Linked DNA regions of Homo sapiens. The protein of the gene in region 1 purifies or fractionates together with the protein of each later gene. This does not show direct contact. Each region holds a gene or a part of one and is shown in the gene's direction. Other genes may lie near its edges.

Region 1 (5,882 bases):
AAATTAGCCAGGCGTGGTGGCGGGCGCTTGTAGTCCCAGCTACCTGGAAGGCTGAGGCAGGAGAATGGCGTGAACCTGGGAGGCGGAGCTTGCAGTGAGCCGAGATCGCGCCACTGCACTCCAGTCTGGGTGACAAAGTGAGACTCCGTCTAAAAAAAAAAAAAAAGAAAAGACATGAAGAATAAAAATGAGCCAGCCATGGAGAGCTGGGAAGACTTTTTGTTTTGTTTTGTTTTTGATTTTTTTGGAGACAGGATCACACTCTGTTGCACAGGCTAGAGGGCAGCGGCGCGATCTCGGCTCACTGAAACTTCTGCCTCCTGGATTCAAGCGATTCTCCCACCTCAACCTCCCAAGTAGCTGGGACTACAGGTGCCCACCCCCACACCTGGCTAATTTTTGTATTTTTAGTAGACACGGGGTTTCACCATGTTGGCCAGGCTGGTCTCAAACTTCTAATCTCAAGTGATCCACCTGCCTCGGCCTCCCAAAGGGCTGGGATTATAGGCATGAGCCACTAGGCCCGGCCTGAGGAGACTATTACTGGCAGAGGCACACTGCAGAGACCTTGAGGTATCGGGATAGGGTTTAGAACAAAGAGATGCCAGTGGCTGGCACAGAGCAAGAGTGATGTAAATTTGGAGAGAAAACCTAGAGCCAGATCATGCAGGTTCTTGGAGGATGAGGTAAAGAATTTGTATATAATTCCAAGAGCAATGAAAAGCTGTTAAATTATTTTAAGCAGTAGAGTGATATGATCTGATTTACATTTTTCAAAGCTGGAGGGACTGTAGAGAGGTGTCAGGGGAGGCAGGGAACTAGGTAGAAGGCCATTAATAGGAACAAGAGATGGTGGCTTGGACTAGGTGGCAGCAGTAGACATGAGGCAGAGTGGACGAATTTAGTTATGTTTTGGACGCTGTTCACAGTATCTGGATTTTAGGGATTGCAATAAAGGGAAGGATGAAGGATGATTTTGGCTTGAGCACCTGAGAATACCGGCAACAAACAGGTTTTCTTTTTTTTTTTTTTTTTTTTGAGATGGAGTCTTCTCTGTCACCCAGGCTGGAGTGCAATGGCGCAATCTCAGCTCACTGCAACCTCCACCTCCCGGGTTTAAGCAGTTCTCTTGCCTTAGCCTCTGGAGTAGCTGGGATTACAGGCGCGTGCCACCATGCCCTGTTATTTTTTTATTTTATTTTATTTTTATTTTTTTGTATTTTTGGTAGAGACGGGGTTTCAGCATGTTGGCCAGGCTGGTCTGGAACTCCTGACCTCGTGATCCGCCCCCCTCGGCCTCCCAAACTGCTGGGATTACAGGGGTGAGCCACTGCACCTGGCCACAAACAGGTTTTCTAGGGTTGGAAATTGAGAGCTATGATTTGGACATTCACCTGCAGCTGTCAGGTTGGCGCTTGGGTGTGAGTCTGGTGGTCAGTTGAAAGGTCAGGGTTGGAGATAGAAATTTGGAAAATCATCAGCACATAGAAGCCTTTTTTTTTTTTTTTTGAGACAGAGTCTCACTCTGTCACCCAGGCTGGAGTGCAGTGGCGTGATCTTGGCTTACTGCAAGCTCCACTTCCCGGGTTCACACCATTCTCCCACCTCAGCCTCCCAAATAGCTAGGGCTACAGGTGCCCGCCACCACGCCTGGCTAATTTTGTTTTTGTATTTTTAGTAGATATGGGGTTTCACCGTGTTAGCCAGGATGGTCTCTATCTCCCGACCTCGTGATCTGCCTGCCTTGGCCTCCCAAAGTGCTGGGATTACAGGCGTGAGCCACTGTGCCCGGCCTCATAAATGCTTTTTAAAGCCATGGGACTGGATATAACTAAGGATATAGTGAAGTTAAATTAAAAGAGGCCTGGAACAAAGCCCTGGGACATTCAGCACTTGGAGGTTGGAAGGGGAAGATGAGATAGTAAAGGAGACTGAGGTAAATATGACTAATGAGGTAGGAAGGAGTCCACGTTTGTAATGGAAGCCAAGACAAGGAAGGGTTTCTGCAGTGGATTATACATATTACCTCATTTTATTCTCATAACAGCCTGTGGAGGGTATTTAAGAAAACCAAGGTAAGTGTGTCTAAGTAACTTGCTCAAAAATACTCAGCTTGCAGGGCACAGTGGCTCACGCCTGTAATCCCAGCACTTTGGAAGGCCAACGCAGGAGGATCGCTTGAGCCCAGGAGTTTGAGACCAGCTTGGTAAGATAGTGAGACTCTGTCTCTACAAAACAAACAAACAAAGAATACTGAGCTGGTAAGCCCAGGCTCTTAACTGCTCAGCATATTTCTCAAAGAAAGGTGAGCCCAGTCTTGCTGATGTGTTAAAAGGTTAAGTGAGACAATTATAGCGAGTTGGATTTTGCTACACAGACATTGCTGATGTTGCTCAGAACCAACAGTGGTAAACTGGCAGAAATAAAATCCTGATCTGAGTGGGTTGAACTGTAAAGAGGAGGTGAGGACAAGCAAATAGACACTGTAGGTAACCTGGAGAACCTTTCTTGCCAAAGAGAACTAAAGTAAGGTGAGGCCATGTGCAGTGGCTCATGCCTGTAATCCCAGCACTTTGGGAGGCCGAGGCAGGCGGATCACCTGAGGTCAGGAGTTCAAAATCAGCCTGGCCAACGTGGTGAAACCCTGTCTCTACTAAAAATACAAAAATTAGCCGGGCGTGGTGGCGCATGCCTGTAGTCCCAGGTACTCGGGAGGCTGAGGCAGGAGAATTGCTTGAACCTGGGAGGCAGAGGTTGCAGTGAGCTGAGATCGCACCACTGCACTCCAGCCTTTTTTCAAAAAGAAATGAGGTGAAAGCTCGGGAATGTGGGTCAAGAGACATTTATTTGTTTTTACTTTGTTTTTTAGGTGGGGGGAATCAGATCCTGTTTGTATGCTTATGGAATTATCCAGAAGTAAAAGGGGTGAATGATGTAGAGGAGAAGGAAGGGATAACTGTGCCATCTTTGAAAAGGCAACTGGAAATGGGATCCAGAGTAAAGTGGAGAGAACCAGGGAAGATTCCATTAAACTGGACCAGAAGCTTGAAAGAAGAGAAGTGGCTTAGTAAACAAGGAACAAACTAGCTAAGTAGAAAGGGGACTTTTAAAATTTAATTTTTATTTCAATAGGCTTTTGGGAACAGGTGGTGTTGGATTATATGAATAAGTTCTTTATTGGTGGTATCTGATATTTTGGTGCACCCATCACCTGAGCAGTATACACTGTAAACCAATGTGTAGTCTTTTATTCCTCACCCCCACCCCCCGCCTTTCCCCTGAGTCCCCAAAGTCCACTGTATCATTCTTATGCCTTTGTGTCCTCATAGCGCAGCTCCCACTTATGAGTGAGAACATAAGCTGTTTGGTGTTTCCATTCCTGAGTTACTTCACTTAGAATAATAGTCTCCAATTCCATCCAGGTTGCAGTGAGTGCCATTATTTCATTCCTTGTTACGGCTGAGTAGTATTCCATGGTATATATACCACATTTGCTTTATCCACTTGTTGATTGATGGGCATTTGGGCTGGTTCCATATTTTTGCAATTGCAAATTGTGCTGCTATGAACATGCGTGTGCAAGTGTCTTTTTCGTGTAACGACTTTTTTTTTTGAGATGGAGTCTTGCTCTGTCGCCCAGGCTGGAATGCAGTGGCGTGATCTCGGCTCACTGCAACTTCTGCCTCCTGGGTTCAAGCGATTCTCCTGCTTCAGCTTCCCGAGTAGCTGGGATTACAGACGTGTGCCACCACGTCCAGCTAATTTTTGTATTTTTAGTAGAGTTGGGGTTTCACCATGTTGGCCAGGCTGGTCTTGAACTCCCGACCTCATTATCCGCCCGCCTCAGCCTCCTAAAGTGCTGGGATTAAAGGCATGAGCCACTGTGCCTGGCCTTCATATAATGACTTCTTTTCCTCTGGGTAGATACCCAGTAGTGGAATTGCTGGATCAAATGGTAGTTCTAGTTTTAGTTCTTTAAGGAGTCTTCAGAAAGGGGACTTTTTGAAGAGATACAATGGGCAAGCACTAGGACATCCAAGGATAGGAAATAAAGTGCAGCTGGCTGGGTACAGGGATGTGTGCCTGTAGTCGCAGATACTTGGGAGGCTGAGGCAGGAGGATTGCTTGAGTCCAGGAGTTCTGGTTTATTTTTTATTTTTATATATGAAAATTTTCAAACAAAATAAATTGCAACTGACCCTGCCAGAACCCAAGCTAGAAAATCACTAACCAAAGCCATCTTTTGCCTCTTGTGGTGTGCCATGGTCTATTTCTCCTGTCTCTGAGTATATATGTTGCATTCTTTTGCTTCTCAGTGTATTCATGGCTTTTCTCTTTGTTCTAACCGCTGCTTTTCTGTGGCATTGGCTGGTCAGCTCCAGCCCCTTTTGACTTTTCAGTCCCAGTCCCCACCGTCATCCAACTGACCCAGTCTCTCTGGGTCCTAGCTTGGGTGAGTCCATTCCATTCTTGATCCCATCAGCTCTGGCCAGAGGCAGGGGAGTCACCTTGTAAGTACTTAGGGTTGTCCTTTGAGAAAGACATGTGTTTGGAGAGGCAGTGACCGGCATGTTTACTACAAGTAGGAACTTTTTTTTTTGTAAGTTTTTAAATTATTATTTTTTAAATTTATTATCATTTTTTGAGACTCGCTCTGTCGCCCAGGCTGGAGTACAGTGGCGTGATCTTGGCTCACTGCAAGCTCTGCCTCCCAGGTTCAAGTGATTCTCCTGCCTCAGACTCCTGAGTAGCTGGGCTTACATGCATGGACCACCACACCCAGCTAACTTTTATATTTCTAGTAGAGACGGGGTTTGACCATGTTGGTCAGGCTGGTCTTGAACTCCTGTCCTCATGATCCACCCGCCTCGGCCTCCAAAGTGCTGGGATTACAGGCATGAGCCACTGCGCCCAGCTACTGATAGTCTAATTTCAGATCAGTAGGTCTCTGAATTGTGTCCTGCGTTGTCAGAATTAATTAATTAATCTATTTATTATGGAGTTTCACTCTTGTCTCCCAGGCTGGAGTGCAGTGGCGTGATCTTGGCTCACTGCAACCTCCGCCTCCTGGGTTCAAGCAATTCTTCTGCCTCATCCTCCTGAGTGGCTGGGATTACAGGTGCCCGCTACCACGCCTGGCTAATTTTTGTATTTTTAGTAGAGACGGGGTTTTTTCGCCAAGTTGGCCAGGCTGATCTCTAACTCCTGACCTCCAGTGATATGCCCACCGCAGCCTTCCAAAGTGTTGGGATTACAGGCGTGAGCCACTTGCCCAGCCTACTGTTGACATTTGTTCCTAAGAAGTGTGGAAAGAACTGAGAAGTAGTAGGGGCAAGATGTTTACTCTTTCCTTTTTTAAGAAATAATTTATCTGCTATTATAGGTCATATTTATATGAGATGTGTTTGCCTCATATAAATCAGACAATTGTTGGAAGTGGATAGGGAGAAACAGCAAGTTTTACTTGAAAACAATCTTAAAAAATGAAAATATCTTGTTAGATTCTAAGACTAAATAATTTAGAACCTAGCTTTAACTCAAAACTACATTTTAGAAAGCTATATTTAAGAAAGACTTGGAATTTTTTTTTTTTTTTTTTAGACAGTCTTGCTTTGTTGCCAAGGCTGGAGTGTAGTCCCAGAATCTTGGCTCACTGCAACCTCCGCCTCCTGGGTTCAAGCTATTCTCCTGCCTCAGCCTCTGAAGTAGCTGGGATTATAGGCATGTGCCACAATGCTGGGCTAACTTTTGTATTTTTAGTAGAGACTGGGTCTCACCACGTTGTCCAGGCTGGTCTTGAACTCCTGACCTCAGGTGATCCGTCCACCTTGGCCTCCCAAAATGCTAGGATTACAGGCATGAGCCACCACGCCTGGCCAAGA
Region 2 (6,458 bases), on another chromosome or scaffold:
GCCAATGCTAGTGGTCCATGGATCACATTGGAATAGCAAGATTTTAAGGGAAATAACACAAGGCAATGGTGATACAGAGTGGTGGGGACAGGGGGTGGCCTCTTCAGATAAGGTTCTCTTGGAAAGCTTCTCTAAGCAGGTGACATTTGTTTTGAGACCTGAAAGATAAGAAAAAGTCATTTAAAAATCTACAGGAAAGATATTCCTGGTAGAGGGGAAAGCAAGTGGAAAGGTCCTGAGGTGAGAATAAGTTCTGGTATTTTTTAGAAACAGAAGACCACTGTGGCCTTCTTAAATTGCTCAAGTGTTTCTTCCACATTTCAGGTGTTATTAAGTGAAAAGAGCACTATGTTTGGAGTCATAAAACCTAGGTTTGGTCTCCATCCCATTAGCTCTGTGGCCTCTGACCTAGTCACAACTTTTCTTAGCCTCAGTTTCCTCATAAATATGGGCATATTAATAAATAATACCTATCTTCCATGGTCGATGTGAGGACTAAATGAAATAAGGTATGACAAAGCGGATTGTAAGTTACAAAATACTATACACATTTAATTATTGCATACATAAAGTGCTATCATGTGATCTGTGGTTGTAGCAGCTATTTATAGCAGCTTTTATTGTGTATACCTCTGTCTCTTTAATTTATGTCAGACAGTTATGTGTCAAGTTATTACAGGCTGAGTTGGCCTTTTTGTTGCTGCTCTTCCCCAGCAGTGTGCAACTCTTATTATGCCTCACGTTCTATTTCTGGGTGCCCTGGAAATTTTCTTCGGCTTATTTGGCAAATAAATATTTGCCTCACTTTAGCTCATCATAGAGTAACAACTTGGGTATTTCAATGTTATTCACACTTTTTGATCAAAACAGTTGGCTTACAATGAGCACTACTTTTGGAAAAAAATAATTTGGCTCCATTCAAAGACTTTACAACTGGGTGGTAAGATTCAGTGGCAATATTCAGCCCTAAGAGAAATCATTAGTAGAGTCTAGAGTTTCTCTAATGTATACTGTAGCTGTCTAACACAGAATAGATGCTGAATAAATATTTGTTGATGACAATATAGTCATTAATATGAAGCCATTACTGATCTACTGTCAACAATACAATAATAAGCTAGAAACATCCAATTAGTCACTAAGTCTTGCCAATTCCATCTCCTAATTGCCCTGCAATCGATCTACTGCCACTGCTACTGCTAGGTTGAGGCCTTTATTTTATGACTGAACTATTGCATTAACTTCATGACTTCAATATGAACTCCGTCCAATCCAACCTTCTCACTTAAGCCAGAGTAGCTTAATGGACATATAAATCTGATCATGTTACTCTCCTGATTAAAACTCTTCACTGGTTATAGGATAAAGTATTAACTTCTTAGAATGAAATAGAAGGCCCTTTACCATCAGGTCTCTGTTCACTCAGGTTAACCTCCTACTACTTTCCCAAACTCCATAGACTCCTGAACCTGAAAATATTTTCTTATGCCTTCTTGCTTTTAACATGTCATCTTCTTTACGTGTAATTCCAGTCAACCTCTTCAACTTGAATTCTATTTTTCTTTAAATAACTAGCTCAAGCATCCCCTTGAATGAATCCCAGAACAAAAAAGCTAACTGCATGGGCTACAGATTTCTGTTTTTCTTTATCAGACTTACTAGTCCAAAGTACCTCTTCATAAGAAGTCCATAATTATTTGTCTCTTTTGTGTGAAAAGTTGGAGAATGCAGCAGTGAATATAAAATTGCAACTGCATTATTGTCTCCGGGGTTTCAGGTAACATTTACAACTGGAAATGCAGTTTCCTAGATAACTGTAAACATATTTTGACATTTTGTTTGATAATAGTGGTGACAAAAGAATATAAGCCTGTCTTTAAACATGGTCTTCTCTCCATACATTTCACTTTACCACCCTTCAGCCAACCTAAGCGATTTTTCAAGAATTAGGGACGCTGCAAAAACCAAAGCGAAGAGCTAGAAAGAGTGACAAAATTAGTAAAGATGTCTGTAGTCTCTCTGTGTGTGTGTGTGTGTGTGTGTGTGTGAGACTGTCCCACGAGCAACAGACCAAAGGAAAACTGCCCCAAGGTTTGCGCAACAGAGAACAATCAGCAAAGTTAAAGTCCTTACAGGACAGAAAAGCAGTAAATCTTACAGCTGAAGCCTCCTCCCAGGGGAAATTAACGTCTGTAGTTTAATCTTTCCTTAATTCAGAAGGGAGTGAAGATAAGAATATGCATAGGGAAAATGGAGAGAGGGGAGCGTGACATTGAGTTGGAGGAGGTAAGAGAGTATTATGAGAGACAAGATGGGGTTGACAGATTTAGCAGATACAATATTTGGGACACACGCACGAAGAGATGATTCGTTGTTTATGTAAAATTGAAACTTAACTAGGTAGGCATCCTGTATTTCATCTGGCAACTCCAGGAAAAGAGAAAAATACAGTGTTACTCCAATATTCCCGGTTGTGTAAGGAAAACAATCAAAGCTCGGCCCTAAGGAAAAACAAATAAAAGAGGCTGTGCGAATGCATCCGAATCTTCAAACAGAATCCATTTCCGGTCTGGGGCCCTGGGAAAACAAGAAGAGGAGAGACAATTAAGGTAGCCGAATTCAGTCCGCCAGTGTCCCATAATCCTCTTCTCTCGGTTCCTCTTTCCTCGCTCAAGATGGCGCTGCTCGCGATGCATTCTTGGCGCTGGGCGGCCGCGGCGGCTGCTTTCGAAAAGCGCCGGCACTCCGCGATTCTGATCCGGCCTTTAGTCTCTGTTAGCGGCTCAGGTCCGCAGTGGAGGCCACATCAACTCGGCGCCTTGGGAACCGCTCGAGCCTACCAGGTGAGATGCCACTGACATGGAAGAATAGGGTGAAGGGCAAGGGGACCTGTAGGGAAAAGGTTGCCCTCCTGACCTCGGGGCAGAGAGAGCACCAAGAAGAAAGTCATGGCTAACTGGGAGCAGCAGTAAGTGAAGGAAATTAACGTCAGTAATTTGAGGAAAGGGCGAAGAAGAAAACCTTTGAGTTCAGCAAAGGGAAACGGGGCAGGAGGTTCTGGGCAGAGGACACCTGGAGCGCTGGAGGCTCTCGGAGTCATAGTTTTTCTCTCATATTAAGAGTTGGGGTAGACACCATTCCCAGCCTGCTTGCCTTTCTAAAGACGAGGAAGACTGGATTATTTTCCCCAATTAGTAATGGAATTTGGGACAGTTTATCTGTGGTTCAGATTTTACTCAGTTGGAATTAGCAATTCGGAGAGCACTGTAATGACAGCAAGCTATCTATAAACAGGTGGCGCCAGTTAACTCCCTTGCTGACAGGCGTGCTTCTTGATAGGCCAAAACCGTAACTATCTTTCCAAAACATAGACCGCCCTAAATTCTTGTATAAATATGACTGTCCTAGATCTGAAAAATACAGTGATGTTCTCTGTGCACAGGTCATTTTGGAAGCCATAGGCTACTTATCCTTAACTTATGAATGTAGCTATGGTTGTAGTGCCTCCTAAAATTTGAGTCCATTATTACCTCTCACTCAGGAACGGTTTTTTAAAAAATTATTTGTACTTAACTGTACTAAAGTATATCTTTTTATTTTCTGTGTATTGACAAGAGGTTTAATTGCCACCACGTATTTATCACTATCACTTTAAAATATTGTCAGTTTTGTATGAGAAACAACCTCTTAAATTTTGATTCTTCATCTACAAATATTTAACGTCTACCTTGTACATAGCCCTGTGCTAGATGATAGGGTACTAAGAGAGACATACAGTTATGCCTTCAAGGATTGTACAGTTTAGTTAAGGAGATTGGATCTATGCATTACAAAAATAACTGAAAAACACAGTGGTGGGTTAATTAGCAAATGAATAGTATGTACAATAAAGGCTATAGGCATCCAGAGGAAATAGTGATAATTAAGGACCAGGTTATAAAGAGTATTTCATGCTGGTGATAGAACTGGGGAGAATGTTCTGAACAGGGAGAATAGGGAATGACACTAAGCATGTGGAAGGCTGATGGAATGACATTTATAATTCATTCAGTAATTATTGAACACCTCTACAGGAGCAAACAAAATATAAGTCCTGTCTTTAAAGAGCTTAAAATCTAGTGGGAAATATGTAAATTAATCGGCAATTAAAATATAGTGGAGCTGTGTAATAATGGGAAAGGTACAAGGTATGGGACAGTATATGTGAGGGGTATTAAGTCTAATTGTAAGGTAGTGAAGATTGCCTTAAGTAACTGATATCTAAGGCAAGAGCTGAAAAATTAGAAGTTAGCCAGTTAAAGAAGGAATCGCATGTGCAAAGGCCCACAAGTCAGAGAGAACATGGACCTTTTCTAGAACTGCACGTAGTTTAGACTGTAGTGAGTCATTCAAGATAGGAAATAGCAGATTAGGCTAACGAAGCGAATCTAGATGATTTCATTAAGGTTTTTAAAGTATTTTATGGTTGAAAGTTTCTAACACATGATCTCTTGGGAATGGTTTTTGTTCTGTAGTTCTCCAATAAGGCAGATGAAGTTAAGATAAAATTTGTAAATGTTATCTTAGATAAAATTAGATATCTTAAGATAAAATTTCTTAAGCTGGAAGAATGAGGGGGAAGAGGGAAAAGGAGAAGTTATTAGGAATCTCAGAGGAGGCAATGGCAATACAAATTTAGCTTTCTCTCTTTCCATGAACGCTATCTCCACAACTTCCTTCTTCCACTCTGTCCTTTACATCCTACCATTTCCTTTAGTTACCATTTCCTCAGTGTGCAAAACAAGGGAAAGATGTTACCTTTGTTTTCTGTTTCTTAAAGGCATGGAACTCTTGCCATCCTTTTTTTAAAACAGGGTGAGAAAGGAATGATTACAAAGTTTTCAAAGTAGAAGCTGAGGTAACCTGAGGTACCTGCAAATTTGTGACTTGTGATTAAGATTACAAAATAATTACTGAATTCATACTTTTAGGACGATCATTAGTATATAGCATAATATTTTAGAGCTGAAAGGAACCTTAGAGCAGTGTTATGAAATAATGTTAGTGGGTTGGATTAGCACTTTTTTAGATGAAATTCAGTAGAATATAAAGAAAATAGCAGTGCTTTTTACATCTTAAGTGAAGTATTGTTTCATGAACTTTTATGTGTATATACACACACACATATATATTTTATATATATATATACACACACACACACGCACACACACACACACACAGTCCCACATGTATGTGATTACTGGAATTCATTGTAAGTATTTCTCACCCAGTATATGCCCTAGACCTGGGTTGTGGAATATGGTAGTTCTTTTGGATAGGTACTGTTTTGTTTTCATTTGTTGGTCTGACCTCATGGACCAAGAATGGGAGCTTTAATTTCTCCCAGTAGCAAGTTCCACCTTCCTACTCTTCCACCATTGGCTGCTAAGAGTTAGCAGAGTAGATAAAAATTAAAATACTTTACTCCTGGCTTTCATATTAACTGAAGTGGGAATATAATAACAACACTAGGGAAATAATCCTCCTATTCTATATTTTAGAGGTTCTAGTTCATATTTAAATTTAACAATATAAGATGCCTATGAAGAAACTACAGTGATTATTCAACAGTCGTCCCAAAATATACTAAAAGAATAGAAAACAGAACTTATTCATCCTGGCTAACATGGTGAAACCTCGTCTGTACTAAAAATACAAAAAAAATTAGCCGGGCATGGTGGCGGGCTCCTGTAGTCCCAGCTATTCGGGAGGCTGAGGCAGGAGAATGGCGTGAACCCGGGAGGCGGAGCTTGCAGTGAGCTAAGATCGCGCCAGTGCACTCCAGCCTGGGCGACAGAGCAAGACTCCGTCTCAAAAACAAGCAAACAAACAAACAACAACAACAAAAACAGAACTTACAAGAGAAATAAGGGTGTCTTTAAGTGGATTATAGATCATGGAACTGAAAAGGGTGAGAGGTGATTCAGTGACATTTAAAGTACCTGAAGCGGCCTGGCCCAGTGGCTCATGCCTGTAATCCTAACACTTTAGGAGGCCAAGGCAGGTGGATCACCTGAGGTCAAGAGCTCGAGACCAGCCTGACCAATATGGTGAAACCCCGTCCATACTAAAAATACAAAAAGCAGCTGGGCATGGTCACGTGCACCTGTGACTACAGCTACTCAGGAGACTGAGACAGGAGAATTGCTTGAACCCTGGAGGCGGAGGTTGCAGTGAGCCGAGATCGCGCCACTGTACTCCAGCCTGGGCGACAGAGCGAGACTTCCTCTCAAAAAAAAGAAAAAAAAAAAAGGACCTGAAGGGGTTATTTGTAGTTCAGTGATGCCTAAACTTAACTGGAACATTAGGTTATGATACAAAGATGTGGACTTCATTTGCAGGAAGAGGGATTTAATGTGCATATGAGAAATAATTTCTTAGACTAATAGTCTATCTTAGTCTGTTTGGGCTGGTATAAC
Region 3 (5,882 bases), on another chromosome or scaffold:
ACTATTCACGTGTATATATCTTTCTATATATTTTTTTCTGAATCATTTGATGGTAGATTGCATACATCACGATCCTTTTCCCCTAAATACTTCAGTATGTATTTCCTAAGCATAGCAGTAATCTCCTACGTAAGTACGCTACAGTTACCAACTTAGGTATATTTAATATTGATACAATACTTTTATTTAATCTACCATTTAATTTCAATTTTGTTAATTGGCCTAATAATGTTCTTTATAGCATTCTTTACCCTCCAGGACAGGATTCAGTCCAGGATCAAGTATTGCGTTTAGTTGTTATATCTCTTTCATCTTCTTCAATTAGGAACATTTTCATATCTCTTCTTGGCTTTTATGACTAGAGCACTGGTTCTCAACTGGGGCAATTTTCCCCCCCTGAGGACATTTGGCATGTATGGAGACATTTTTGGTTGTCACGAATGGAGGCACATTACTGGCATTTAGTGGATAGAGGCCAGGGATGCTACCCTTCAATTCCCAGGACAGACCCACAAGAAATAATTAGGTGCTGCAAAATGTCAGTAGTGCCAAGGTGGAGAAATCCAGGACTAAAAGGACCTTTTTCTATTGTTGTTTTTAAAAGTAAACTTCTATTTTGAAGTAGTTTTAGATTTACATGCAGTTGGAAGAAATAACACAAATCTAATATACACCTAACCCTGTTTCTCCCAATGGTAACATCTTTTGAAACGATGGTGTAATATCATAAGCAGGGTATTTATGTTGATACAGTTAAGATAAAGAACATATTCAGCACTATAAGGATTCCTCATGTTGCTTTTTTAGCCACACTCACTTCCCTTACCCACCCCTTGCTTTAATTTTTCGAGGCACCTGTCATTTTCTTACTACAAAAGTTATCAAATAGTAATAATAAAGTGATTTTATTCCTTGGCATCGTTCCCAGTTATCAGGAATGTCACCTTATGATTAGCTGGAATGTTAGTTTTCCAGAGATTCTAGATGATACACACTCAAAACACATACACATATGTTTAAAGCTTAATGAAACGAATAAGCCTACTATTACCCAACTTAAGAATTGTAACTTTACCAGTCCTGTTGAAGCTAAATGTGTACTCCTCAGTCCATCTCCCTGACTCCCACTAAACTGTTTTTAAACACTTTTCCTTTTCAAAATTACCAGGGGTCCTGGTGTGGTGTCTCATGTCTGTGATCCCAGCACTTTGGGAGGCAAAGTAGAAAGATTGCTTGAGCCCAGGAGTTCGAGACCAGCCTGGGCAACATAGCAAAACCCTATCTCTACAAAAAATAAAATAAATTAGTTGGGCGTGGGGATGCACATCTGTAGTCCCAGCTGCTTGGGAGGATTGCGATTGCTTGAGCTGGGAGGTCAAGGCTGTTGTGAGCCGTGATTGTGCCACTGCACACCTGTCTGGGCAAGAGACCCTGTCTCAAAATAAAATGAAATAAGTAAAATTACATTGTTATTTTTCTAAATAATAATGTTTCATTTTACTGGTTTCTTTGCAATGTACAAATATGATAGTTTATTGCATATGACCTTATGTGACTTCCTTTTTAAAATTCATGGTTTCTGAGATTCATCCATGTTGTGTGTTTAACTGTAGTTCATTAGGTTTTTACTGTGTGTGAAATTCTGTTGTGTGAATATACCATAGTCATCTTTTGTTTGTTTATTTATTTTCAGACAGAGTTTCACTCTTGTTGCCCAGGCTGGAGTGCAGTGGCACAGTCTCGGCTCACTGCAGCTTCCACCTCCCGGGTTCAAGTAATTCTCCTGCCTCAGCCCCCCAAGTACCTGGGATTATAGGCGCCCGCCACCATGCCTGGCTAATTTTTGTATTTTTAGTAGGGACAGGGTTTCACCATATTGGCCAGGCTAGTCTTGAACTCCTGACCTCGTGATCTGCCCACCTCAGCCTCCCAAAGTGCCGGGATTATAGGCGTGAGCCACCACGCCGGGCCTCACAGTCATCTTGTAATTAACATTTGGGTTGTTGCATTTGTTAATATTATGAAAAATGCTGTTATAAATATGTTTGCATATCTTTTGGTGTTCATGTCACGAGGATATAAAAACAAGAGCGTAATTGTTGGATGTGCACATGTTTATCTTTAGAATGCTTTCTAAAGTGAATGTACCAGTTTATACTCTCATAAACAACTTCTGAGTTCAGGTTACTCCTAGTTCTCATAACACTAGAACTAAGAGATTTCTTAAGTTTTTTTTTTTTTTTTTTTTTTTTTTTTTGAGACAGAGTCTCGCTCTATCGCCAGGCTGGAGTGCCCAGTGGCCTGATCTCGGCTCACTGCAACCTCTGACACCCTGGTTCAAGCAATTCTCCTGCCTCAGCCTCCCCAGTAACTGGGATTGCAGGCATGTGCCACCACGCCCAGCTAATTTTTGTATTTTTAGTAGAGAAGGGGTTTCACCATGTTGGCCACGATGGTCTCTAGCTCCTGCCCTCATGATCTGCCCACCTCCGCCTCCCAACGTATTGGAATTACAGGCATGAGCCACTGCGCCTGGCCCAGATTTCTTAGTTTTTGGTAATCCAGAAGGAGGTTTCTTTGTGTTTGATGGAAATGATAGTGTCAATGATAGGGGCTGTAGTATTGCATTATGAGTATTGTAGTCCATCATAAAGCACAGAAGTGAAAAGGGTGAAGCTAAAAAGAGCCTTATTAATGTGTATATTCTGAGAACCGTAGTTCGTCTACTTAGTTGCAATAGCATCAGATGAGGGTTTGGAGAAGATCTCTTCAGAGGCCACCAGAGGCATCCTAGATGAAAGTTTGTGAGACTAATGGTTCTGAAACTTTCCTAATTGTTGCCTAACCTGCCTTGTAGTACTATAGTACAGTGACAGAACTGGAAAGGCACAGAATAAGTAAGTTTTTGCAAAGTTGTCCTAGCATGTATGTGTTGCTGTATTTTGTAAGAAAAGAAAGAGCTAATCTGCATATAATTTTATTCTATTTACTACAATAATGTGTTGCAAATTATTTAAACAGCCTAAACTCATAGACAGCCAATGAAGAAACTTTTGGGGTGTGGATATGTATCTGTATATATTTGTATATACACTGTACACAGTTATTTCAGCAAAGGAGCAGGCATTTGATCCAGAGGTTAAGCAGGTAATGATTATTGTAAATTATAACTAAAATCAAGGATTAAGCAGCTGTATTTTTTTTGTTTTTTTATTTTTATTTTTTTGAGGCAGAGTCTTGCTCTGTTGCCCAGGCTGGAGCCATTTACTTTTCGAATAAAGCTACATGGTATGTTAGGGGTGAATCATGTCTAATAGCCCTAAAGTTTACGTGAATGGTGACTTTGTTAGCAAACAGCAGGAAAAAAAAAAAGGAAACCACCATAATTTGCTATTCACTGATCTCTTTACCTAAGACATCTTGTCAAGAAAAGGGAAAAACAGCCTAGATGTGACATATATTCTTTAACACTAAATGAGAAATGAGGTTAAAAATCTTGAGGTTTGGTGAGATAATGATTCTGTTACTAGGAATAGAGGAGCATTTAGCTCATTGTTACTCTTGTTCATCTAGATTTTCTAGGATCTCTCTGTTGTAAACTATAATTAGATAAATAATTAATTAAATGTTTATTGAAACTTATGAAGTGATATAAAGAAGTCTAGACCAGGTGTGGTGGTTCACACCTGCAATCCCAGAACTTTGGGAGGCCAAGGTAGGCAGATTGCTTGAGCTCAGGAGTTTGAGACCAACCTGGGCAACATGGTGAAACCCCATCTCTACAAAAAATACCAAAAATTATCCGGGTTGCTGGTGCATGCCTGCAGTCTTAGCTACATGGGAGGCTGAGCTGAGAGGATACCTTAAGCCCAGGAGGTCGAGGCTGCAGTAAGCTGTGGTCGTGCCACTGTGCTCCATCCTGGGCAATGGAGTGATACCTTGTCTCAAAAAAAAAAAAAAAAAAGAAGTCTGAAACATGGACCCTGTCCCTTGATGAGTTGACACAAAAGATATTTACAAATATCTAACAGAAGGAAACAAATGACTTGTGGTTAATGAGCTACCACATAGAGAGATGGCTTGGAATAGTAGAGAACCTTTCATGGAGAAATTGGGACTCCATTGAAGGATGGATGGATAAAAATTACATGAGTAATGTTTTAGGGTAGTAGTTATATAATATTTGTTTTTTTCCTTCATGATTCTTTCTTTTTTCCCCTTTCTTCTCCAGGCTACCATACCTCTACTAGGTATGGGGAAGACCTTAAAAGCAAGGATAAGCAGCATGAATAGAGCTAGAATAGTAAAAACTAGAACATTTTAGGATAACTAAAATGTTGGAAAAAGAAAGCATGGGTTGAGGAATCATTCCACCTACTGTTAAATCTTACTATATAGCTGCATTAATCAAAACACTGCGGTATTGGCAGAGGAACAGACAGATCAATGGAACAGAATAGAGAACCCAGAAATAGATTAACACAAATATGCCCAACTGATTTTTAACAAAAGTGCAAAAACAATTCAATGGAGGGAGGATAGTTTTTTTTTTTCTTTCTCTAAAAATAGGGCTGGAACAATTGAACATCATAGGCAAAAAAATGAACCTTGACCTAAACCTCACACAGTATTTTTTAAAAATCAATGTAAAATGGATTATTTGTGAAATCAATGTCCACTTAAAATGGATTTAAACATGAAATGTTAAACTATAAAACTTTCAGAAGAAAACATAGGATAATATCACGGCCGGGTGCAGTGGCTCATGCCTGAATTCCCAGCACTTTGGGAGGCTAAGGTGGGTGGATCACCTTAGGTCAGGAGTTTGAGATGAGAATCGCTCAAACCCAGGAGGTGGAGGTTGCAGTGAGCCGAGACTGCACCACTGCACTCCAGCTTGGGCGACAGAGCAAGACTCAGTCTCAAAAAAAAAAGAAAACATAGGATAACATCTTCAGGACCTAGGGCTAGGTAAGCAGTTCTTAGACATGACACCAAAAAATTCATAAAAGAAAACAATAATTGGACTCCATAAAAGTTCAAAACTGGCCAGGCGTGGTGGCTCACGCCTGTAATCCCAGCATTTTGGGAGGCCGAGGCGGGCAGATCACAAGGTCAGGAGTTCGATACCAGCCTGACCAACATGGTGAAACCCCATCTCTACTAGAAATACAAAAATTAGCTGGGCGTGGTGATGTGCACCTGTAATCCCAGCTACTCAGGAGGCTGAGGCAGGAGAATCGCTTGAACTTGGGAGGCGGAGGTTGCAGTGAGCCGAGATTGCGCCACAGCAAGCCAGCCTGGGAGACAGAGTGAGACTCTGTCTCAAGAAAAAAAAAAAAGTTTGAAACTTAGCTCTGTGAAAGACCCTGTAAAGAGGGTGAAAAGTTTAGCCACAGACTGGGAGAAAATATTTGCAAATCACATATTCAAAGAAGGGCTTGTATCCAGGTTATGTAAAGAAATCTCTGAACTCAAGAGGTTGGGTGCGGTGGCTCATGCCTGTAATCCCAGAACTTTGGGAGGCCGAGGCAGGTGGATCACTTGAGGCTAGGAGTTTGAGGCCAGCCTGGCTAACATGGTGAAACCCTGTCTCTACTAAAAATACAAAAATTAGCCGGTGTGGTGGTGGGTGCCTGTAGTTCAAGCTACACCAGAGGCTTAGGCAGGAGAATCACTTGAATCTGGGAGGCAGAGGTTGCAGTGAGATCGCGGCACTGCACTCCAGCCTGGGCAACAGAGTGACACTCTGTTGCAAAAAAAAAAAGAACTCTCTAAACTCAAGAAAGCAAACAATACAATTAGAAAATAGGGGAAAAAGCTTGTGCGGTGGTGCATGCCTGTAATCCCAGCTACTAGGGAAACAGAGGCAGGAGGCTTCC
Region 4 (5,882 bases), on another chromosome or scaffold:
CAGGGTGGAGTGCAGTGGTGCGATCTCAGCTCAGTGCAACTCCATCTCCCAGGTTCAAGCGATTCTCCTGCCTCAGCCTCCTGAGAAGCTGGGATTACAGACATGCACCACTGTGATTGGCTAAGTTTTGTATTTTTAGTAGAGGTGGGGTTTCACCATGTTGGCCAGGTTCATCTCGAACTCCTGACCTCAGGTGATCCACCGAGCTTAGCCTTCCAAAGTGCCGGGATTACAGCTGTGAGCACCGTGCCTAGCCTAAATATAAATTATTTTAAGCTATGAGCCTCTGGAATGGATTGGGAATAGTTTGCTTTTGTCCAATAAGAAAAAGGGCAAGAAAAACATTTTATACTGCAAATAAAGATACGTGAATAAAGATATTTCAGTGCCTTTGTTGAGATAGTAAAAAGGAATAAGGGAAGTATAGCCCCACCTAGGCCCGGCAAGAGGGGAAGAACAAGGACGTGGATAAGAAGTATGAATTGAGGCAAGAGGAGTGAGAGATCTCTGATGAGCCATGGGCTTCTATAAGTTGAGTTACACTCAGTTAAATGAAGCTTTGCTACAATCAGTTATTTTACCAATATGGAAAGAACCTAATTACAGTAGTATATTTCAGCAAGCTTAATTCTGAGTTCTTTAGAGTTACGGGGTATGTTGGAATGGTCTTATTACTAGGGATTACTGCCAGTAGAAGACAGATAATCAAGTAATCAAGTAAAGTTTTTTTTTTTCCATTATGAAAGGCATATATGCTGTTTAACAGTGTTTAATCATCACTTACATATAACATGTCCAGAGTTACGTGTGACTTCAAATAACAACCCTTCTATCATAGCTCATGATTTTGTGGATCAAGAATATAGGCAGTTGCAGGTACAGAGTTCATAGGAAATAAAAAAATAAAATTGAAAAAAAAAGGATATAGGCAGGGCTCAGCTGGATGCTGTTTCTTATGGTATCTATGGAGGTCATTACATAAACTTTGGCTGGCTGATGGTCTGGTCAGAAGGTCCAACATCGGTTTGTTTATGTGTCTGGTACTTTGGTGGATGGCTGGAGGGCTGGCCTCAACTGGAACTGTTGACCCAAGGAGATGGATGTGGCCTCACCAGCATGACAATGTTAGCATGGTTGTAATACTTAGGTCAGGGATCCCAGAGAAAATGTTCCAAGGGGGCTGGGTAGAAGCTGTAAGACTTTGTATTAGTTTTCTTTCTCTTTTTTGAGACGGAGTCTCGTGCTGTCACTCAGTCTGGAGTGCAGTGGTGTGATCTTGGCTCACTGCAACCTCTGCCTCCCGGGTTCAAGCGATTCTCCTGCTTCAGCCTCCCTGAGTAGCTGAGACTACAGGCACACACCACCACACTTGGCTAATTTTTGTATTTTTAGTAGAGGTGGGGTTTTGCCAGGTTGGCCAGGCTGGTCTGGAACTCCTGACCTCAAGCAATCCTCCTGCCTCGGCCTCCCAAAGTGCTGAGATTACAGGCGTGAACCTCCACGCCCGGCCTGTATTAGTTTTCTATTGCTGCTGTAACACCACAAATACAGTGGCATAAAACAACATATTCTCTTAGAGTTGTCAAAGTACAAAGTCCAAAATAAGTCTTAAAGGACTAAAATCAAAGTGTCAGCAAGGCTCTGTCCTTCTAGAGAGTCCAGGGCAGAATGTATTCTTTGCTTCTTTCATCTTTTGGGATTCCTTGGTTCCTGGACACATCACTAAAATCTCTGCTCCCTCATTGACCTTTTTGCCTCCCTATTATAAGAACCCTCATGATTATATTTAGGTTTTACCTGGATAATCCAGGATAATCTCACTCTCTCAAAATCCTTAATTTAATTACACTTGCAAAATTCTTTTTGCCATATAATGTAACATATATACAGGTTAGGGAATTAGAATGTGGGATATCTTTGGGGGCCATTATTCATCCTACCACAGACTTGTTATGACCTAGCTTTTGAAGTTCCAGAACATTATTTCTGCTGCATGTAATGGTCAAGCAAGTCACTAAAACCAGTTCAGATTCAAGGGAAGGGAAATTAAAAGGAGGACAGAAAGGTGATTCCTTATCAGACTCTTCACCTCTCTATTAAATAAACTTTTGGGTAATTGTTTTCCTTGATTGTGTTGTCTCTTCACTTCTAAATTCTTGACTAAATTGTAAATATTAGAAATTTGGGAAATATGGCTTCCAGGTAAGTCAAACACTTATATGTATAGTTTAATTTATCAGTAATTAATTTGCTGTTTTTCACCTTAATAGTCATTTATTGCCTATTTTTTATTTGTGACAAATTGTTATGATCAAATTTGTGGATAGGAAAATTGAAGTAATATAAAGTCAGCAATTTATAGGGTCATCCAGAGGGTCAGGTGGAACTACAGATCACGATCTTGAAAGTTTGAGATGATGTGATATTTTGCCATTATTAGTGGAGATTGTTTTCATTTTTCTAAAAATAGTGATGAGTTTGCATAACCACACTCTTGTCTGGTTTCCTTTGGTGTGTCTGGGTATAAAATAACTTGAACAAATAGGGACTAAATCCTTGAGTGTAGATTTTATTAGCATCTTGCCCAAGTCATCTGAATTAGTTAGTATGTAGCTTTACAGGACTGTAGCCTTGTCTTTGACTCACAGGTTTATGTCTGCTTTAAGTAAAGGAAAACACATAAAAACAAGTAGTTATATATTAAAATTACCTCAGACAGACAATAAGAGGTAAGAGTAAATAAGAGGTTCTTGTAGATAAAAGACTGTAGGTAACAAAATCATTTCTCCTAAGCTCTGAGACATTTACTTTGATTGCTTTTGATGATAAAATATTTGAACATATTGCATTTTTTATCTGCCTTAGTAAAAATATAATGAGCATAATTTAGCTTCTACCAGATGTCGGAGTCCTTATATACTATATTTTAATACAATAAGTTTCTTTGAGGTTACTTCTATTTGTAGACATGCTAATCATTACACCAAATGCCTCCAGAACACTGCTGTTTCAGTTGGCATGCTTTTTAGACTCTGTCATAGTGGTAGTGAAATGTGCTGGGCTTAGTCTGCCCCTCCCTCCTCCTCAGTGCTCTCAGACTTTTCTACTCTATTCTCATTCATTCCTTGTAGTTATGGTAAACTCTTTTCTGCTGTGTAAGGAGGTCTGCTTCATGACATCCTGTTATTGTTTCTAAAGTCTGATTTTACTTCTGCCAATTGTCACTCTTCCATTGTGTTTAATTTTCTTCTTTTTCCTGTCTTTTTACTTCCTCCCTTTGCTTTTCAGCAGGGTTTAATCTTGATAGACATTTCAAGGATCACTGTTCTCTTTTGTGTTTTCAGCTAACTAGTTGCATCTATCACATTATTATTGATTTTTGACTCTAGCTCTTGTACTAAAGATCTTTCTTTGATAATATCCCTCATAATAGGTTTTATAGTAGATTCTACTGCAAAGGCTATGGTTGCACAACAAAATCCTTTACATTCTCTTACTAAAGTTGTACTAGATAATAGAATTGCTCTAGATTACCTACTGGCTAAGTGGGGAAGAATCTGTGCAGTTGTTGATACTTCTTGTTTTTTTTTTTTTTTTTTTTTTTTTTTTTTTGAGACGGAGTCTCGCTCTGTCGCCCTGGCTGGAGTGCAGTGGCGGGATCTCGGCTCACTGCAAGCTCCGCCTCCCGGGTTCACACCATTCTCCTGCCTCAGCCTCCCAAGTAGCTGGGACTACAGGCGCCCGCCACTACGCCCGGCTAATTTTTTGTATTTTTAGTAGAGACGGGGTTTCACCGTTTTAGCTGGGATGGTCTCGATCTCCTGACCTCGTGATCCGCCCGCCTCGGCCTCCCAAAGTGCTGGGATTACAGGCGCTTCTTGTTTTACATGGATGTCTACATCAGGTATTATGGAGATTCAGTTGTAGGGGATTAATGAACAGGCTGCTTGGTTGAAAATGCATCAGAATTAAGCAGTTAACTGTGGAAATGACTTAAAATGGTCATGGTTAAAGACACAATTGACAAGAAAATTTGGTTATTTCTGTGGCCTACAATAATTAATTTAAAATAATCACCATAATTAGGACTGATAACATACCAAGACACACCAGAATTTTAGGAGGCTTATACAATTTTGGACTATATATTAGTAACATATCCATAAACTATAACTCAAAGAAGATTAAACATCATTTCTTATTTGACAATGCTTCCCATGTAATTTAACTTACCAGATAAGCTTGTTTCTTATCTCTCTCTTGGATGCTGCAAGGACCCTCTGTGTAACGTCTCAAAGTTAGTTTGAGGTCAAAAGACTAAACTTTCAATTTGAAATTTGATTTTGGAAGTGCATCAAATTTGTCAAAGATTTAACGCACTTAATCAAAATAGGATCAAAGATCACTGTAAAATAATTGTCATACCTTTAGCCAAAGTGGTAATTAAAAGGTTTTTAAAAGCAAAACCATTTATTCTTCGATAGAGGATTGACTCTATTTTCCACACAATCAGAAATCCTAATAGATAGCATGAGATGGAATCTGTCTCTCCTCTCCCCTCTTTCTTTTTTTGCAGTTTACTTAAAAGGTAAACAAACACATTTACTCTTTCTTTCTTCTTAATACTACACAAAATTCTTGTTCAAAAGAGAAAACCAAATTTTACTTTTGTATTAGTATATTACCAATACTAAAACTACAGCTAATTTTATTAAAAGCTTATAAACAAATTGGATTTTCATAAACCTTTTATAATCTCTTAGCATTTTTTCTATTTTTTTTTTTTGAGACAAGAGTCTTGCTCTATCACCAAGGCTGGAGTGCAATAGCATGATCTTGGCTCACTGCAACCTCCACCTCCTGGGCTCAAGCGATTCTCATGACTAAGCCTCCTGAGTAGCTGGTACTACAGGCGTACACCACCATGCCTGGCTGATTTTTGTATTTTTAGTAGAGACAGGGTTTCGCTATGTTGGCCAGGCTTGTGTTGAACTCCTGACCTCAAGTGAACCACCAGTCTCTGCCTCCCAAAGTTGTGGGATTACAGGCATGAGCCACTGCGACCAGCCAATTTTTTCTATTCTCTTTCTTTTTCCACCTTGCTATATTAATTTAGTTTTATCTGTATCTTTTAAAAAATTCCTTCATTTTGAAACAACCTTCAAATATCTTCTAAACTAGATAGATGAAATTATTTTTTCTCAGCAAATACACATTTTCATGCTTTTTACAACTTTCCTTATCAAAAACATATCTTGGCCTGGCACAGTGGCTCATGCCTGTAATCCCAGCACTTTGGGAGGCCGAGGCGGGTGGATCACCTGAGGTCAGGAGTTTAAGACCAGCCTGGTCAACATGGTGAAACCCCGAATCTACTAAAAGTACAAAAAATTAGCTGAGCGTGGTGACGGGTGCCTGTAATCCTAGCTGCTTGGGAAGCTGAGGCAGGAGAAGTGCTTGAACCCAGGAGGCAGAGGTTGCAGTGAGCCGAGATCCTGTCGTTGCACTCCAGCCTGGGCTATAAGAGCGAAACTCCATCTCAAAAAACCCTCCAAAAAACCGACAAAAAAAATCTTGCTTTTTAAAAATTATTTATTTATTTTTTATTTTTTTGAGATGGAGTTTTGCTCTGTTGCCCAGGCTGCAGTGCAGTGGCGCAATCTCCGCTCACTGCAACCTCTGCCTCCCGGGTTCAAGCAATTCTCCTGCCTCAGCCTGCTGAGTAGCTGGGATTACAGGTGCATGCCACCATTCCCGGCTAATTTTTGTATTTTTTAAATAGAGACGGGGTTTTCACCTTGTTGGCCAGACTGGTCTCGAACTCCTGACCTCAAGTGATTCACCCGCCTCTGCTCCCAAAGTGCTGGGATCACAGGTGTGAG
Region 5 (5,882 bases), on another chromosome or scaffold:
CCTCTTGCACTAATCCTCCTCAGCACAGACCCTTTACGGGTGTCGGGCTGGGGGACGGTCAGGTCTTTCCCTTCCCACGAGGCCATATTTCAGACTATCACATGGGGAGAAACCTTGGAGAATACCTGGCTTTCCTAGGCAGAGGTCCCTGCGGCCTTCCGCAGTGTTTGTGTCCCTGGGTACTTGAGATTAGGGAGTGGTGATGACTCTTAAGGAGCATGCTGCCTTCATGCATCTGTAACAAAGCACATCTTGCACAGCCCTTAATCCATTTAACCCTGAGTGGACACAGCACATGTTTCAGAGAGCTCGGGGTTGGGAGTAAGGTTATAGTTTAACAGCATCTCAAGGCAGAAGAATTTTTCGTAGTACAGAACAAAATGGAGTCTCCTATGTCTACTTCTTTCTACACAGACACAGTAATAATCTGATCGCTCTTTCTTTTCCCTACACTAATAATTCCTGAAGTTTTGCAGAGCTTCATAGATTATAATGTGCTTTGGATCCTTTACTGCTGCGTCCCACCAGACCATAAGCAGGAACTATGTATCCATCAGGGTCCAGACAGGACATGGAAACAACACTAGTAACTCGAACAAGGAAAATTATTTATTTATTTATTTATTTTTTTGGAGACTGAGTCTCACTCTGTCGTCCAGGCTGGAGTGCAGTGGCGCGATCTTGGCTCACTGTAACCTCCAACTCCCAGGTTCAACTGATTCTCCTGCCTCAGCCTCCTGAGTAGCTGGGATTACAGGTGCCCACCACCACACCTGGCTAATTTTTGTATTTTTAGTAGAGACGGGGTTTCACCACGTTGGCCAGGCTGGTCTGAAACTCCTGACCTCAGGTGATCACCTGCCTTGGCCTCCCAAAGTGCTGGGATTACAGGCGTGAGCCATCACACCCGGCGGAAAATTTTATATAAAAAATTATTATCTGGCCAGGCGTGGTGGCTCATGCTTATAATCGCAGCAGTTTGAGAGGCTGAGGCAGGAGGATCGCTTGAGCCCAGGAGTTCGAGACCAGCCTGGGCAACAAAGTGAGACCCTGTCTCTACAAAAAATTACATAATTAAAAAATTAGCCCGGCATGGTGGTGCATACCTGTGGTCCCAGCTACATAAGAGGCTGAGACAAGAGGATTGCCTGAACTGAGTAGGTCAAGGCTGCAGTGGACCATGTTTGTGCCACTGCACTCCAGCCTAGGCGACAGAACAAGGCCCTGCCTCAAAATAAAAAATATTAGCTAATGGAAAGTGATTATCATAAAAGCTAAAAGGGAACTTTAAAGAACAGAAGAAAAGCAAATATGATGTATAGCTACTACCTCCAGGAAGAAATAAGCTTGGAAGAGCCCCCAACCTCCTTGCTCCAGGGCTGAGCACAGACCTTGTCAGGGCTGGCTACATAATTTGTGGGGCCCAGTTCCCTTGTTCAGATAGCAAGAGAAAAGTGCTGTTAGCTTTTCCTTCTGCAGTATCTCTTTCAACCTCTCATGGTGTTATTTGCTGTTTAATATCATGTTCTCTTGGACACATGAATACTTATGGGGTAAGTGCAGACTTTTAGAGGTGCCTGGGACCCCTGTCCTGTGAATAGGCATGTGTGCAGCTCACTGGCTGCCAGGTTTTCCCTCTGCCAGCAGCGGGATCGATGTGCTGTGACCCAGCCAGTAGTGGGGAAACTGAGACAGACATCTTCCCTTCCCATGAGCTGGGCTGCTCATGGGAATTATGTGAGCAGCTTCCAAGGAATCACACTTTCTGTGCTGGGACATACTCAGTATATGGATTGGAGGTAGACGAGAGGCCCATGAACAAACAGTAAGGGACAGGACCATATTCAAACCCAGTCTTTTTACTTTAAGCCATATTCTCATTTCATTCCCTACACTGCGTAGTAAGAAGCTGGTTCACTCTAGATTCTTGTGCCTGGCATGGGACTTTGCCCATGGATATTGCTCTATCTCCAGATAGATTTTAGACTATTGACATTTTGGACAGGATAATTCTTCGTTGTGTTATGGAGGGGGTTGTCCTATGCATTGTAGGATGTTTGGCAGTATCCTTGGTCTCTATTCATTAGATGCCACTCATACCTCATCAGTTGTGGCATCAAAGGTATCTTCAGACATTGTCAGATGTCCCCCCGGGGACATAACTGCCTTCCATTTGAGAACTATGGCTCTGTCTGAATCCAGCAGTTCGATCTTCTGATAGCTGTTTTCTTTTGTCTTTGTTCTCAGCTTTCCGCTTGGCCCTCATCCAGCTTCAGATTTCTTCCATCAAATCAGATAACGTCACTCGCGCTTGTAGCTTCATCCGGGAGGCAGCAACGCAAGGAGCCAAAATAGTTTCTTTGCCGGTCAGTATGGGAGCAGCCATTCTGTTCTAGCCACTGTACACCCAAGCAGAACGGTGTTTGCTAGCTCTGGTTGTCCTCTTGTATCCTGGGGTCCAGCAGTGTCCCTTGGAGCCCATAGATTGTTCCGAGTCTGACTGGAGGATGACCTTAGCAAGGTTCTTTGTGAGATAGGATGTGCCAACACGGTCATAGGTCTTTAGGTTTTGGATCTTCCTCTTTGTTCAGATGAGGAAGCCAAAATCCTAGTATATTGAGGGACTTACGGAAAACTAAAATACTCAGTGCTTGGATACTTTGTTCCTTATTTAACTAAGTCTTTATAGAACCAGAACATATTGGTTTTAGCACTAAGCCTCCAACATTTTTTTTTTAAATGAGCTCTGGGAGAACACCTGTGATTTGTCTCCTCCAACCCACTAGGCTAGCTTTGTAGTCTTACCTGTGGCTACAGGCTCTTTACCCTTGAGATGTCAGTGTTTTTCTTATTAGCTGTGTTTTAACCCTTCGACTGAAAGCAGAGCTAGAAGCAGCAGCTATGGCCTCTTACAGCAGAACTTTAAAATGGGTGGGTGTTTTGATCTTTTTTTTTCTCTGCCAATATTTTTCTAGGAATGCTTTAATTCTCCATATGGAGCGAAATATTTTCCTGAATATGCAGAGAAAATTCCTGGTGAATCCACACAGAAGCTTTCTGAAGTAGCAAAGGAATGCAGCATATATCTCATTGGAGGTAACTTCCTACCCACAAGGTATAATGACCTAAACATTAGAAACATCTGAATGAGTCAGGTGTGGTGGCGTGCGCCTGTATTCCCTACTTGGGAAGCTTCAGCTTGGGAAGCTGAAGCAGAGAGTTTCTTTTTCTTATTTATTTATTTTTTTTGAGGTGAGGTCTTGCTTTGTCACCCGTGCTAGAGTACAGTGGTGTGATCATGGCCCACTGCAGCCTCACCCTACGAGGCTCAAGTGATTCTCCCACCTCCTGAGTAGCTAGGACTGCAGGTGTGCGCCACCATGCCTGGCTGATTTTTGTATTTTTTTGTAAAGACAGAGTTTCACCTTGTTGCCCAGGCTGGTTTTGAACTCCTAGGCTCAAGCAGTCTGCCCACCTTGGCCTTCCAAAGTGCTAGGATTACAGGTGTGAGCCATCATGCCAGGACTGTTTTTTACTATACTAATAGAGGATTGAGAAAAAAAATTTTTTTCCATAGAGGCCACATACATAAAGGTAGCTTTATTTTTGTGGTTTTGGAATAAATGTTTAAAGGTTTTATTTGCTTAAATAAAAAATAAACACAGAAAAATTCTATAAATATAGCAAATACAATTTTTTCTGTATGATGATATATTAAGAATTAGAAATGAAGGCAAAGCAAGAAGCCTGGAGATGAAACTGCATTCAGTGATGGAGAGGCTTCTGACTTTACGTTCTCATCTTTTGGGACACAGTTTTGTTGCAGAACCTGGTGAATTCAAGTTAAGCAATGGGAAATTTCTCATTTTGCCCTAATGTTACAGATTAAGTGTTACTCAAGATCATGGCTGAATTTCAGGAACAGTTTGGTTATTTTTTAAACCTGTCTTTGGCATCTAACCTAATCATATCCCATCTACACTCTGGAGTTTATCTCTGAAAGATCATATTCAAGAAGGAAAAAAAAAACCATGATTAAGTAACCCATAGAAGGGAATACTTATTCTGTATTATAGAATGAGGTGTTGCCTTATTCTAAAAACAAAATGAATAAATAAACCGTAAAAGATAGGTTCTTTATTTTTGGACCCAAGTTATCAGGCTTTTATCCCTTTCTCACAAAAGAATTGCTCTATTCTTTTTCTTATGGTATGTTTCTTCTCTCAATGAAAGGCTCTATCCCTGAAGAGGATGCTGGGAAATTATATAACACCTGTGCTGTGTTTGGGCCTGATGGAACTTTACTAGCAAAGTATAGAAAGGTAAGTAGGAAGTGTGGCATAAGAATTTGTTATCTCTAAGCCAGCAACAATGTGTGGAAAAAAAATTTGCTATGAAGTTCCCTAGTCCCTCTCATTATATCACACATGTATTAGGGTTTTGACTGATTGGCACAGGTGGTTATTCTTGGCCATTTGCATTTTTATATAAGTTTTAGACTCAGCCTGTCAATTTCTGCAAAGGAACAAGCTATAGTAATTTTTTTTTTGACAGAATCTCGCTCTGTCACCCAGGCTGGAGTATAGTGGCACAATCTTGGCTCACTGCTAGCTCTGCCTCCTGGGTTCACACCATTCTCCTGCCTCAGCCTCCCGAGTAGCTGGGACTACAGGTGCCCACCACCATGCCCAGCTAATTTTTTGTATTTTTAGTAGAGACTTGGTTTCACCGTGTTAGCCAGGATGGTCTCAATCTCCTGACCTCATGATCCACCCGCCTCAGCCTCCTAAAGTGCTGGGATTACAGGCATGAGCCACCGTGCCCAGCCAACCTATAGTAATTTTTATTAGTATTTCATTGAATATATAGAGAACACTGTGGGAAGAGTTGCCATCTTTTTAGTATTAAATGCGTATACATGACCAGGTGCAGTGGCCCATGCCTGTAATCCCAGCACTTTGGGAGGTCTGAGTAAGTGGATCACCTGAGGTCAGGAGTTCAAGACCAGCCTGGCCAACATGGTGAAACCCCATCTCTACTAAAAATACAAAATTGGCTGGGTGTAGTGGTGCACACCTATATAGTCCCAGCTACTCAGGAAGCTGAGACAGGAGAATTGCTTGAACCCAGGAGGTGGACGCTGCAGTGAGCCAAGATTGCGCCACTGCACTCCAACCTGGGCAAGACAGAGCAAGACTCCATCTCAAAAAAAAAAATCATATACATTTAGTATCATTAAGTCTTCTTGATGAGTTGACCCTTTTATCATTATGAAATATCTCTTTTTTTTCTTGTAATACCTCTTGTCTTGAATTCTGCTTTATCTCTGCTATCACTATAGCCACTCCAGCCTTCTTATGCCTAATGTTTGCTGGTACGTGGTTTTTCCAGTTCTTTGTTCTCAAGCTATATGTGTTTTTATATTTTAAGTGGATCTCTTTTGTCAACAGCATATAATTGTATCTTAATTTTTTCTTTATTCTGACAATCTGTGTCTTTTAATTGAAGTGGTTAGTCCATTTATATTTAATGCACTTATTGATATGATTGAATTTAGGGATAGAGACATTTTACTTTTTTTTCCCTTTGTTCATCTTTTCTGTATTATTTTGGATTAATTGAATATTTTTTAGAGTTCTGTTTTAATTTATCTATTGGCTTTTTAGTTATACATCTTAGCTTTTTTTTTTTTTCCAGTTGTTGCCCTGGGAATTATCATATGCATCCTTAACTTTTCACAGGCTACTTAAGAGTTCATATTATATCATTTCATGTGAAATTTAAGAACCTTATAATGATATAGGTCCATTTTTCTACCCCACTGCCCCTGCCCTCATTCTTTATGCTATAGTTGTCATTTGTATTCCATGTATATATGTTAT

What was found.
Region 2: the proteins of ACAT1 (region 1) and ABCB7 fractionate together in Homo sapiens (co-fractionation; one large-scale study listed by BioGRID). This does not show direct contact.
Region 3: the proteins of ACAT1 (region 1) and PDSS2 purify together in Homo sapiens (affinity purification with mass spectrometry; one large-scale study listed by BioGRID and IntAct). This does not show direct contact.
Region 4: the proteins of ACAT1 (region 1) and TMEM65 fractionate together in Homo sapiens (co-fractionation; one large-scale study listed by BioGRID). This does not show direct contact.
Region 5: the proteins of ACAT1 (region 1) and NIT2 fractionate together in Homo sapiens (co-fractionation; one large-scale study listed by BioGRID). This does not show direct contact.

The regions. Positions count from the first base shown.
Region 1 is NC_000011.10:108,125,774-108,131,655, forward strand, and holds part of ACAT1 (acetyl-CoA acetyltransferase, mitochondrial isoform b precursor), read left to right. Parts: intron 1-2,112; exon of another isoform or gene 2,113-2,206; intron 2,207-2,869; exon of another isoform or gene 2,870-3,086; intron 3,087-3,329; exon of another isoform or gene 3,330-3,428; intron 3,429-5,882. UniProt on the Homo sapiens protein: This is one of the enzymes that catalyzes the last step of the mitochondrial beta-oxidation pathway, an aerobic process breaking down fatty acids into acetyl-CoA.
Region 2 is NC_000023.11:75,152,490-75,158,947, reverse strand, and holds the start of ABCB7 (iron-sulfur clusters transporter ABCB7, mitochondrial), read left to right. Parts: upstream 1-2,664; 5' UTR 2,665-2,675; coding exon 2,676-2,843; intron 2,844-6,458. UniProt on the Homo sapiens protein: Exports glutathione-coordinated iron-sulfur clusters such as [2Fe-2S]-(GS)4 cluster from the mitochondria to the cytosol in an ATP-dependent manner allowing the assembly of the cytosolic iron-sulfur (Fe/S) cluster-containing proteins and participates in iron homeostasis.
Region 3 is NC_000006.12:107,452,130-107,458,011, reverse strand, and holds part of PDSS2 (all trans-polyprenyl-diphosphate synthase PDSS2), read left to right. Parts: intron 1-5,882. UniProt on the Homo sapiens protein: Heterotetrameric enzyme that catalyzes the condensation of farnesyl diphosphate (FPP), which acts as a primer, and isopentenyl diphosphate (IPP) to produce prenyl diphosphates of varying chain lengths and participates in the determination of the side chain of ubiquinone.
Region 4 is NC_000008.11:124,361,567-124,367,448, reverse strand, and holds part of TMEM65 (transmembrane protein 65), read left to right. Parts: intron 1-5,882. UniProt on the Homo sapiens protein: Essential for maintaining proper cardiac intercalated disk (ICD) structure and function as well as cardiac conduction velocity in the heart.
Region 5 is NC_000003.12:100,336,840-100,342,721, forward strand, and holds part of NIT2 (omega-amidase NIT2), read left to right. Parts: intron 1-2,247; coding exon 2,248-2,366; intron 2,367-2,975; coding exon 2,976-3,096; intron 3,097-4,233; coding exon 4,234-4,322; intron 4,323-5,882. UniProt on the Homo sapiens protein: Has omega-amidase activity. The role of omega-amidase is to remove potentially toxic intermediates by converting 2-oxoglutaramate and 2-oxosuccinamate to biologically useful 2-oxoglutarate and oxaloacetate, respectively.